2 separate regions of the Homo sapiens genome follow, and region 1 is linked to region 2. The links come from fine-mapping of genetic effects on gene expression. A gene starts in region 2. The other region holds a variant in brackets. All regions are shown on one strand. Distances are between the middles of the regions. Region 1 has its middle 17 kb from the start of MPZL2. Region 2 holds the start of MPZL3 (myelin protein zero like 3).

Region 1 (5,391 bases), 29 kb before region 2:
TATAGAATAATAATAAACAAGCTTGAAATGTTGTGAGAATTACTAAAACATGACACAGAGACACAAAGTGAGCACATGCTGTTGGAAAATGATTTGCTCTACATGGGGTTGTCACAAACCTTCAATTTGTAAAAAACACAATACCTGCAAAGTGCAATAAAGTGAAGTGCAATAAAATGAGGTCTGCCTATACAGCATAAAGCAGTAGATGAGTCACAAAAATAATTTAACACCCTCGTAGCAGTGTATCCTTAATGCCCAGATTGTAGGTTCAAACACCATTTCCCACTAAAAGAAATCAGGGATCCTTGAAGAATTGCGGATGATTTTAAGTCTATGGCAAGAAGTGTTCAAGATGAGCCTGGAACATCTCGTCATATGGGTCAAAAGGACTGTCACATGAGGAATTACCTTGGTGCAATGATAACCTTCTAACATATTACATAACAAGCTATCCCAGAGGTCACAGAACAGAATGGCTCACAGACAAAATTACGATCCTGAATCACTTGGTTTATCAACTCAATTAAAATGTTTAGTAAGAAGCAATGGAAAAGAGATGAGGAAGGTTAACACCCTTAGCACAGGGTGGAAGAAGTACCCTATGTGAGTTCTGTGTTATGTAACGCTCATATGCCGAATCTTTCTATTGCATCAGCCTTCCCCACCGATGGTTACAAGGACCTGAGTTGTGGATGAGCAAGAGGACTCAGCAAATTGACTGGGCCTGGAGCCCAAACACTCTTGCTCTATTGTAGGAAGGCAAGGGCAAGAATCCTTGGCTACAGCTGTAGCTTGCCGATTACCCTGTTGGGCAGCTATGGGTTTTATCTGCATATCTCAGGCAGAGGATGCAGATTGCCAGAATGGGTGTCACAACGGGATGGCTGGTTTAAATTTTTGTGAATATTCAGTGCCTCATAAATATTTGGTGTTTCCTGTGTCTTGTGTCTACTTGGTCTGTCCATCCCTTCTTATATCAGCATAAATCTGCTCTACTTACCAAGGTCTAACACGTCTTACAAGCTACTTGCTTCTACACTTAATTTCATCTAGTCTCCATATTTGTTTCCTTCTCTTACTTTCTATAGCAGACTTTAACATTCATAAAGAATGCAGCAAACACACCTTGCAAGGATGCACTTGAAGCTGGAAGAGCCTCTTCCAACTTGAAGAGGCTCCCGATGGCCAAAGATGAGAAAATTTGAGAATCAATAAGAATAATAATGATGTTGTTTGAAACACATCAAATATATTTAATGCTATGTTTAGCTTTCAATTTAAAGTGAGAGGTGTGTTAACTACCTTTCACTTGAACACTTAGAGGCCATTGTAGGGTTTAATTGGCCTAATTTCAATATCATGTGTCTCAGGGAATTGGGAGGCCTGTGAAGAGAGACTGGGGAATGGCTGGTCATTATGTCACAATGTCATTATGTGTAATAACACTAAAAACAAAAAACTCTCATTGCTAATCATTGGAAGATGCTAGTGAACCAATGCATTGTGCTCAAAATCGATCTTTTCTTTTCTTTTTTTTTTTCTTTTGAGACGGAGTCTAGCTCTGTCGCCCAGGCTGGAGTGCAGTGGCTCGGTCTCGACTCACTGTAAGCTCCGCCTCCTGGGTTCACGCCATTCTCCTGCCTCAGCCTCCTGAGTAGCTGGGACTACAGGCGCCCGCCACCACGCCCGGCTAATTTTTTGTATTTTTAGTAGCAACGGGGTTTCACCATGTTAGCCACGATGGTCTAGATCTCCTGATCTCGTGATCTGCCCTCTTCGGCCTCCCAAAGTGCTGGGATTACAGGCGTGAGCCACCATGCCCGGCCTCAAAATCGATCTTTTCTATATGAACCATCCCAGTGAGTAGTCACTTTGTAGATGAGGGAGTTTCTGTTTCTAGAAATAGTCTAGCTAATAAATAAAGTAGGGATGATATGATTAGAAGATCATCACTTTGCACACCAAATGAATGAATGGATCTGGGCACTGAGCATCAAAGGCTACTGACATCAAACACACAAAGGAGACAACCACATACTATATTCCTCCTGGAGGAAGACCACAACACTGCCTGTGAGGTAGTCTTGCTTTAAAAAAGTCAGATTTCAATCTGATTGAGCCTCAGTTCAGTCCACATCAATAGCTTTCAAGGAGTGGTCAGCATCAAGCACACAGGAAGTTGCTGGAAATGCAAACTTTTGGGACTTTCCCAGACCAGAATCAGAAACTCTGAGGGTGGGGCCCAGCAACCTGTTGCGACAAATCATTCAGGTGATTCTGATGCTCACTAAAAATGGAAAACTACTGCTTTAAATACAATACCAGTCTATAGGAAATACAGAGGAACATATTAAACAACACCTTCGTGATGCAGGCAAAAAAAAAAAAAAA[T/AT]ACTGTGGAAAACCATGAGACAAATGACTCAATTTCTTTAAATGTAAATTGCAAGGAAACAAAAAATAATAAGGAATAATAATAAAAGATAATAAGGAACCCATAGATTAAGAGAGATCTAGGAAACATAAAGACCAATTGCAAATTTTAGACCTTATTTGGACCTTCATTCAAATAAACAAATTGTAAAAACATGTTATAACATTTATGAGATAACTGGAAATTGTAACACTGGTTATTTGACATTTAGGAAATGCTAATTCTCTTAGAATATGATAATGGAGACTGGATATGGTAGCTCAGGCCAGTAATCCCAGCGCTTTGGAAGGGCGAGGCAGGAGGATTGCTTGAGGCCAAGAGTTCAAGACCAGCCTGGGTAACATAGACAGACTGTTTCTACTATAAGATAAAAAAAAAATTAGCCAGGGATGGTGGTGCACTCCTGTGGTCCCAGCTACTTGGGAGGCTGAGGCAAGATAATTGATTGTGCCATGCACTCCAGCCTGCGTGACAGAGCAAGACTCCATCTCTAAAAATATAAAATAAAATATGATAATGGTGTTGAAGTATTTAAATAATTAAATGGGGGGGGCATTAGACTGAGGAGGCTCTAACTAAGTTCCTACTAAGCAAGCTAAAACCTAACTCAGTCTCATTTCCTGTAAGCAGTTAATTTAAAAGAAACTTAGCCAATCACAGAAGGCCATCTGGGCATTAGTTATATTGTCTTTAACTTCCTATTGGATAGTCTAAATAAGGAAATTCTGGAAGTTTAACCAATCAAATAATTTCTTTGCTCTGCTTCTGCATTTACCCTATTAGAGCCTTCCCCTCTTGCTCCGTCCTCGAAGCCCAAACCATTTCCAGTTTGGAGCAGCCTGATCAATGAATTGCTGTTTGCTCAAATAAACTCTTCAAAGTTTTAAAGTGTGCCAAAGTTTATCTTTTAACAGAAGTTATATTTATGGGCAAAATGATATGGTATCTTCAATTTGCTTCAAAATAATATTGGGTGGGTAGATAAAGACATAAATGACCATGGGTTGCTGATAATAAGGGCTGGGTGATAGGACATGGGGTTTGTTATATTATTTTATCTACATTTGTATATGTTTGAAATGTTCCATAGTAAAAAGCAAAAAAAAAAAAAAAAAAATTATTGACTTTGTGTGAGCCCATGAGAAAAGCTTTGGATTTAGAGACAGAACTCCCAGATTCAGCCCTAATTTTTCCATTTATTTTCTAGCCAGAGTGAGCTGAGTAACTGGGTAAACTGTTTCATCTCTGTCATCCTCATTTTCCTTATCTAAAGTAGATGAGGAAAATTGGGTAGAATAGAATAGTGAGAATTAAATGATACAATGTATTCAAATGCTTTGCAAAGAGCTTTGCAGATGGAAGGTTCTAGTATCTGGGTTGTGAATTCCATGAAGCTAAATATGGCATCTTCATATATTTTTTTTCAGCACAGTGTTAGACATATAACAGGTGCTCTATAATTATTCAGCCTTAGTTTTTAAATTCAATTTAAACATTATTTGGTAGATGAATGAATGGGTATATTCCAAATCCTAGGTTTCAGCCCAACATAGTACCATTCTTGATCATTAACTTAGTAATTAAAACTTATAAAGAGTGAATAAAAGTAGGAGACACATTCTGACAATTAGTATTTAATTAGTGTTTATTATTTAATCGACATTATCAATTAGTTTTAATTTAATCATGTTCAAATAGAATATATTATGATACAGATTACATTTGCTCCTTTCCTTTCATGGTTGCACCTAGGCTGAAAACAGAGGAAGGTGGGAAGCCCTTGTTCAGTGTAGATATCCCAGTCTTAGAGATGATCTTCACTTAGATGCAAAGATAAGCCAAGTTAAAGCTGGGACTGAGTTTTAGGTTGTCACTTCACTTCCTTAGTAAACTTCTTTAGGTTCCAACAGTGGGAGCTCCATACTGCTTAGCATCACTGAGGTGTGGGGCACACAGATGCTTCAGTAAGAATGCATTCACTCATCCAGCAAATGCGTATTGAGCATCTACTATGTGCCTAACAGTTAGGTGTTGGGGATACAGAGACATGAACCCTGCCCTGGAGGGATTCAGTCTACAGTAGAGGCAGACGTGTAAACAAGTAATGACCATACAGTGCAGCAAAGGCTATAAAAAAGGTGTCCCAAGGTGCTAAGGGAACTATTAACTCCAGGTCCAGGGGACAGGGAAGGCTTCATGGAATGTGAACTTAATTTTGAAAGGCAAATAAGAGTTGATCAGCTGGATAAAGTAGACAGAACATATGCACAAATATATATGTGGAGGTAAGAACAAGTATGTGATTAGTTTGGCATAGTGATGAATAAGGCTTAAGGAGCCTGGAAAGTGGGGAAAGAGGGGCTGGTTAGTTGACAGAGGCAGATCATGAAAGGCCTTAATCTGTGAATTAAGAAGAGCCAGTTAAGGTATACATCCAGCTTAATAAGATAAGAGACCTTAAAGTAAATGGAAAATTATACCTTTATTATAGTTATGCACAAAACAGTTTTTAAAGAGGTTTTTTTTTTTTTGAGACAGAGTCTTGCTCTGTTGCCCAGGCTGGAGTGCAGTGGCGTGATCTCGTCTCACTGCAACCTCCATCTCCTGGGTTCAAGCAATTCTCCTGTCTCAGCCTCCTGAGTAGCTGGGACTACAGGCACACACCACCATGCCCAGCTAATTTTAGTATTTTTAGTAGAGACGGGGTTTCACCATGTTGGCCAGGATGGCCTCGATCTCTTGATCTAATGATCCGCCCACCTCAGCCTCTCAAAGTGCTGGGATTACAGGTATGAGCCACCGATCCTGGCCTAAAGAGCTTTTAAAGAGAATCCTGTCTTTTAAAGGATCCTCAGGGACCATTTATGCATTTCACAAGTCATCATACTTATGATTTTATAATCAGTGCCTGGTTTGGTCATTCACTTTCTTACTTTCTTTGGATTTGATCTACATGAC
Region 2 (5,391 bases):
TGATTAACAGTAAATCCTAAATTCAAACTGTTAAATGACATTTTTATTTTTATGTCTCTCCTTAACTATGAGACACATCTTGTTTTACTGAATTTCTTTCAATATTCCAGGTGATAGATTTTTGTTGTTTTGTTAATTAATCCAAGATTTACAATAGCACAACGCTAAATCACACAGTAACTACAAAAGGTTACATAGATATGAAAAGATTGGCAGAGGCCATTGCAGGATGAATCACTTGTCACTTTTCTTCTGTGCTGGGAAAAATAATCAACAATGTGGGTCTTTCATGAGCAGTGACGGATAGTTTAGCTTACTATGTTTCCCCCCCAATTCAATGATCTATAACAACAGAGCAAAGTCTATGCTCATTTGCAGACTGGAATCATTAAGTAATTTAATAAAAAAATTGTGAAACAGCATATTACAAGTTTGAAAATTCAGGGCTGGTGAAAAAAATCAACTCTAAATGATGATAATTTTGTACAGTTTTATATAAAACTCTGAGAACTAGAAGAAATTATTAACTTTTTTTCTTTTTTAATTCTAATTCACTTGTTTATTTTGGGGGAGGAAGACTTTGGTATGGAGCAAAGAAATACCAAAACTACTTTAAATGGAATAAAACCAACTTTATTCTTTTTTTCCCCCATACTGGTAGATAAAGCAAACTTTATAAGTGGGCTATTGAAAGAAAAGTTACAAGCTTAAGATACAGAAGCATTTGTTCAAAGGATAGAAAGCATCTAAAAGTTTAGGCTCAAGATCAATCTTTACAGATTGATATTTTCAGTTTTTAATCGACTGGACTGCAGATGTTTTTTCTTTTAACAAACTGGAATTTTCAAACAGATTATCTGTATTTAAATGTATAGACCTTGATATTTTTCCAATACTATTTTTTAAAAAATTGTATGATTTACATATGAACCTCAGTTCTGAAATTCATTACATATCTGTCTCATTCTGCCTTTTATACTGTCTAAAAAAGCAAAGTTTTAAAGTGCAATTTTAAAACTGTAAATTACATCTGAAGGCTATATATCCTTTAATCACATTTTATATTTTTTCTTCACAATTCTAACCTTTGAAAATATTATAACTGGATATTTCTTCAAACAGATGTCCTGGATGATGGTCCATAAGAATAATGAAGAAGTAGTTAAAAATGTATGGACAGTTTTTCCGGCAAAATTTGTAGCTTATGTCTTGGCTAAATAGTCAAGGGGTAATATGGGCCTGTTGTTTAGTGTCTCCTTCCTAAAGAGCACTTTTGTATTGTAATTTATTTTTTATTATGCTTTAAACACTATGTAAATAAACCTTTAGTAATAAAGAATTATCAGTTATATAATTTGTGTATATACATATCTAGAAGTTCTACATTGCAGGAAAAACAGATGGATATATATTTAATCTTTACCAAAAAGTTTTCTTAGTAGAGACAACCTGCAAGTCAATAATGGATACAGTTAGTTTCTAATGGGTAAACAGAAGTATACGGATTTCCACAGAATTTTCACACTGTTTTGGATAGCTGGGAATTGGGCATAACAACACTACTTAGTTTGAGGGCTCTTTCAAAGAAAAGTATCAAAGATTCTATTTAGTACTTTGCATTACACTTTTAATAGGGAAAACTACTGGCTTTCAAGTCTAGTAAAGGAATGGAAATTGAAAAATGGAAACTTATTAATTCTTCCCCAAAGCGAAAGCATACTTTTATTCTCCTCCTGCTTTCATTGACATGTGGCAATTTCCAGGGAAGAGGCTTACTGATTATTAAAGCAGTGTACTTATTGTACCATCTCTTTTTCAGAAGTATGTGACGCCATCTCACTTCAAGTACTGTGATAACATAACTTTCTTACTTTTCCAACCAAAGACACAGAAATCCCAGTTCCTCTTTTCCTCTAATACAGGCTGTAATGATTTGATCATCATTGCCACCGCCAAAAGTAATTTAATAAACACCCAATTTTGGAGGCTGCAATACTTACACTAAAAAGGACACCAACCAATGAGGCTTGTGGCACATATCACTACAAGCACCTAATATATATTTATCTATACTGTATGATCTCCCAGGTGTTTCTGAACTCTAAATTTACAGTAGTGTATTCTGAGAACCTTCAACTAAATCTCGAGACGTAAAAACGATGTCTGACATGCAGTCAGAGCATCAAAATTATTTAGTTCTGCAGAATTCCATAAAAACAAAATTGTAATTATTCCAAGTCCGTAGCCTACTTCATTTTCAAGCAAAAGAGAGCATTTAGCTCCCGCCTGAAAGTTAATAAATCTCTGGTCAGTGAAACCAGGTGTGGTTCTGGAAAGAAGCCAGGTTCCTATGGTAACTTCGGATCGCCATTTAAGTTGTCTCTCGGCCTCCTGCTCTGACGTCACTTCCGGTGTTACCTGTGTCGTTACCGGGAGCTGTAAACAAGGTGTGCAAGCATCTGAAGAGCTGCCGGGATGCAGCAGAGAGGAGCAGCTGGAAGCCGTGGCTGCGCTCTCTTCCCTCTGCTGGGCGTCCTGTTCTTCCAGGGTGAGTGCTCCGGCTGGCTACGCTCCACTTCCGGCCGGGGGGTTAGGGAAGATGGTCGCTTTTCCGGTTCCGGGTAGGGGGGTCTCCAGAAAGCCCCCGCATAGCTCTGGGAAGGAAGGAGGGAGGGAGCGGGACGTTGGGACGATGTCATCACCACCCCGTTGAGGATAGTTGGTATTTTGTCAGTCCTTTCCTGAGCTTTGGGAGCTTTTTCACCTTGCGTGACCTGTCATTGTAGTTTGGTGATAGCATACTTGATGGAACCACAAAGAGCTCTGGCTTTGGGGGCACCCGGTGTTATTTTGTGGTGTTATTATCAGTGGTTGACCGCTGTCGTTTGGGCGCTGTATACCCTGATTAGAAAGAAAACAGTTCTAGCATTCAGTAGTTTGCCCCAGTAGTTTTGGGAAACAAAATCATGACAGTTGGTAATTTTATTTTTTGTAGGTGATTATTGTAGTCTATAAAATGAAATATTTGCTAGTCACAGAAGGGATGTGATGTGATTCGTTATAGAGAAGCATATCGATGAAAAAGTAACTGCTTTAGCATTTTCATAACTTTTTTTAATACAAGAAAGAGCATATAAATTCTGTTAAAATTTATTAAGTAATATCAGAAGTAGGGTATTCACACTGACATTCACATCTTAAAATTAGGTGAGTTTTGCTTTCATATAATTTTCAAATTGCATAAATTTCAATCCAGCCTAATTACCTTCATCTTAAGGTACAATTATTTCCTGGATTTTGTGTATGTGTGTCTTCCTGGGAAATAAAATATTAGTATATCTAGTATTAGAGTGAATTGCTAAATTTATAAAATTTCCTTGAGGGTAATGGGGATTTCTGAAAGAGATATTTAATATTATATAAATATAAATAGTTTAATATAAAGACTTCAGATGTCCTAAATCTTAGCAGTTAAGGCTGGAAAGTTTTTAACTGGTGACTAATATTCATGTTGCCAGCACACCCCCGATCCCTCCCAGCTGCCTGTGTCATCATAAGTCTCCAGTTTTTAAGCTAAATTACTTTGCAGTATGATATTTAGGCTGGCCTACTGTCACTCCTAATAAACCCAGTCCTCTCTCTCTCTCTTTCACACACACACACACACACACACACACACACACACACACACGAGAAATATTCAAATATTGTCTTATTGAGAAAAAAAATCTGGAAATGGTGTTTTCTTAAATCTAATGTCATTTTGCTTTGAAGAGCATCTGTCAAGTCCAGCAGACCATATAATTCAATCAAACATTTAAAGTTGATTTTACAATCTCTATGTACTTGTGGAATAGATTTTTTGCCTTTTAAAAAATAACTGGTGGCAGGGTGTGGTGGTTCTTGCCTGTAATCCCAGCACTTTGGGAGACCGAGGCAGCTGGATCACCTGAGGTCAGGAGTTCGAGACCAGGCTGACCAACATAGTGAAACTCCGTCTCTACTAAAAAATACAAAAAAAATTAGCCAGGCGTGGTGGCGGGCGCCTGTAATCCCAGCTACTCGGGAGGCTGAGACAGGAGAATCGCTTGAACCCAGGAGGCAGAGGTTGCAGTGAGCTGAGATCTCGCCATTGCACTCTAGCCTGGGCGACAAGAGAGAAACTCCGTCTCAAAAAACAAAAACAAAAACAAACAAAAAAGAAACAACTGGTTTATCATATTATTCACATGCCATACAATTTACTGTCTTAAAGGGCATAATTGAATGGTTTTTAGTATATTCACAGTTATGCAATAATTACCACTATCAATTTTAGAACATTTTCATCACCCCAAAGAGAAACTTGATACCCATTAACAATCACTCCTCACTCTCCATTTCCCTTAGCCCCTGGCAACCACCAGTCTATTTTTTTGTATCTATTGATTTGCCTATTCTGGACATTTCATATAAATAGAATAATATCTGTAATCCTAGCACTTTGGGAGGCCGAGGTGGGTGGATCATTTGAGGTCAGAAGTTTGAGACCAGCCTGGCCAACGTGGTAAAACCCTATCTCTACCAAAAAATACAAAAAAAAAAAAAAAAAAAAAAAAAAATTAGCCAGGTGTGGTGACATGCCCCTGTTATCCCAGATTCTTGAGAGGCTGAGGCAGAAGAATCACTTGAACCTGGGAGGTCGGAGTTGCAGTGATCTGGGATTGCACCACTGCACTTCAGCCTGAGCGATGGAATGAGATCCTGCCTCAATAAATAAATAAATAAATAAATAAAAATAAAGTAAATGGAATTACACAATATGTGCTTTTGGTGACTGGCTTTTTTCACTTTGCATGTTTTCAAGGTTCATCCATTTGTTTGGTGTTTTAAATCTTATGTGGTTGAGTTTGGTTTCATGTCAGTGTTTATTTGCCTTTTGTTTTCAAAGATAAGACCACTTAAATTATTAGATTATTTGAATTCTCCTTAAGTTATAAGTCTGGTCCTGCTATATCAGTTATCTAAGTATTTAGAAATGGTAGACTAGGGGACCTAGGTTTCTTAAACTTTTCTCTCTTTTACTTAGGTGTGCAATATGAATAAAATATCAGTAGATTTGTATTTTAGAAAATGGGGCATACAAGATTGGGGGCTTTATTGACACATTTAATTCTTTCATGTGTAAAATTACTTATGTGAAAATGTGATTTTCTTGTTTTTTCCCCAGACTAAAAAGTTTTTGTTAATTATTATGAGTATTTCTATAGTTGGCTGTTTTTACCTGGCAAGAATGCTTTTCTGCTCAGATGAAGAGATAAAGGCATTAGGCCTGGGATGGACATTTCTGAGTGAATTAATGTTGGATTGGTATTTTTTTTATGAGTGGAAGAGACAAACTGTCTTACATCC

Evidence for each region. PIP is the estimated chance that this variant, and not a neighbour inherited with it, causes the effect.
Region 1: its variant is the best candidate, but not a certain one, in a credible set for the expression of MPZL3 in monocytes (Quach 2016, PIP 0.57).

The regions. Positions count from the first base shown.
Region 1 is chr11:118,278,241-118,283,631 of GRCh38, reverse strand. No RefSeq gene overlaps it. Among named protein-coding and RNA genes, the nearest start is that of MPZL2, 17 kb to the right of the region's middle. The variant T/AT (reference allele first, on the strand shown) is at 2,395.
Region 2 is chr11:118,249,379-118,254,769 of GRCh38, reverse strand. It overlaps MPZL3 (myelin protein zero like 3), which reads left to right and starts at 2,405. Exons shown (of 6, transcript NM_198275.3): 1 at 2,405-2,548. The coding sequence starts at 2,476. MPZL2 (myelin protein zero like 2) reads left to right here. Exons shown (of 6, transcript NM_005797.4): 6 at 1-1,354. RefSeq lists enhancers at 1,963-2,523, 2,873-2,922, 2,524-3,085.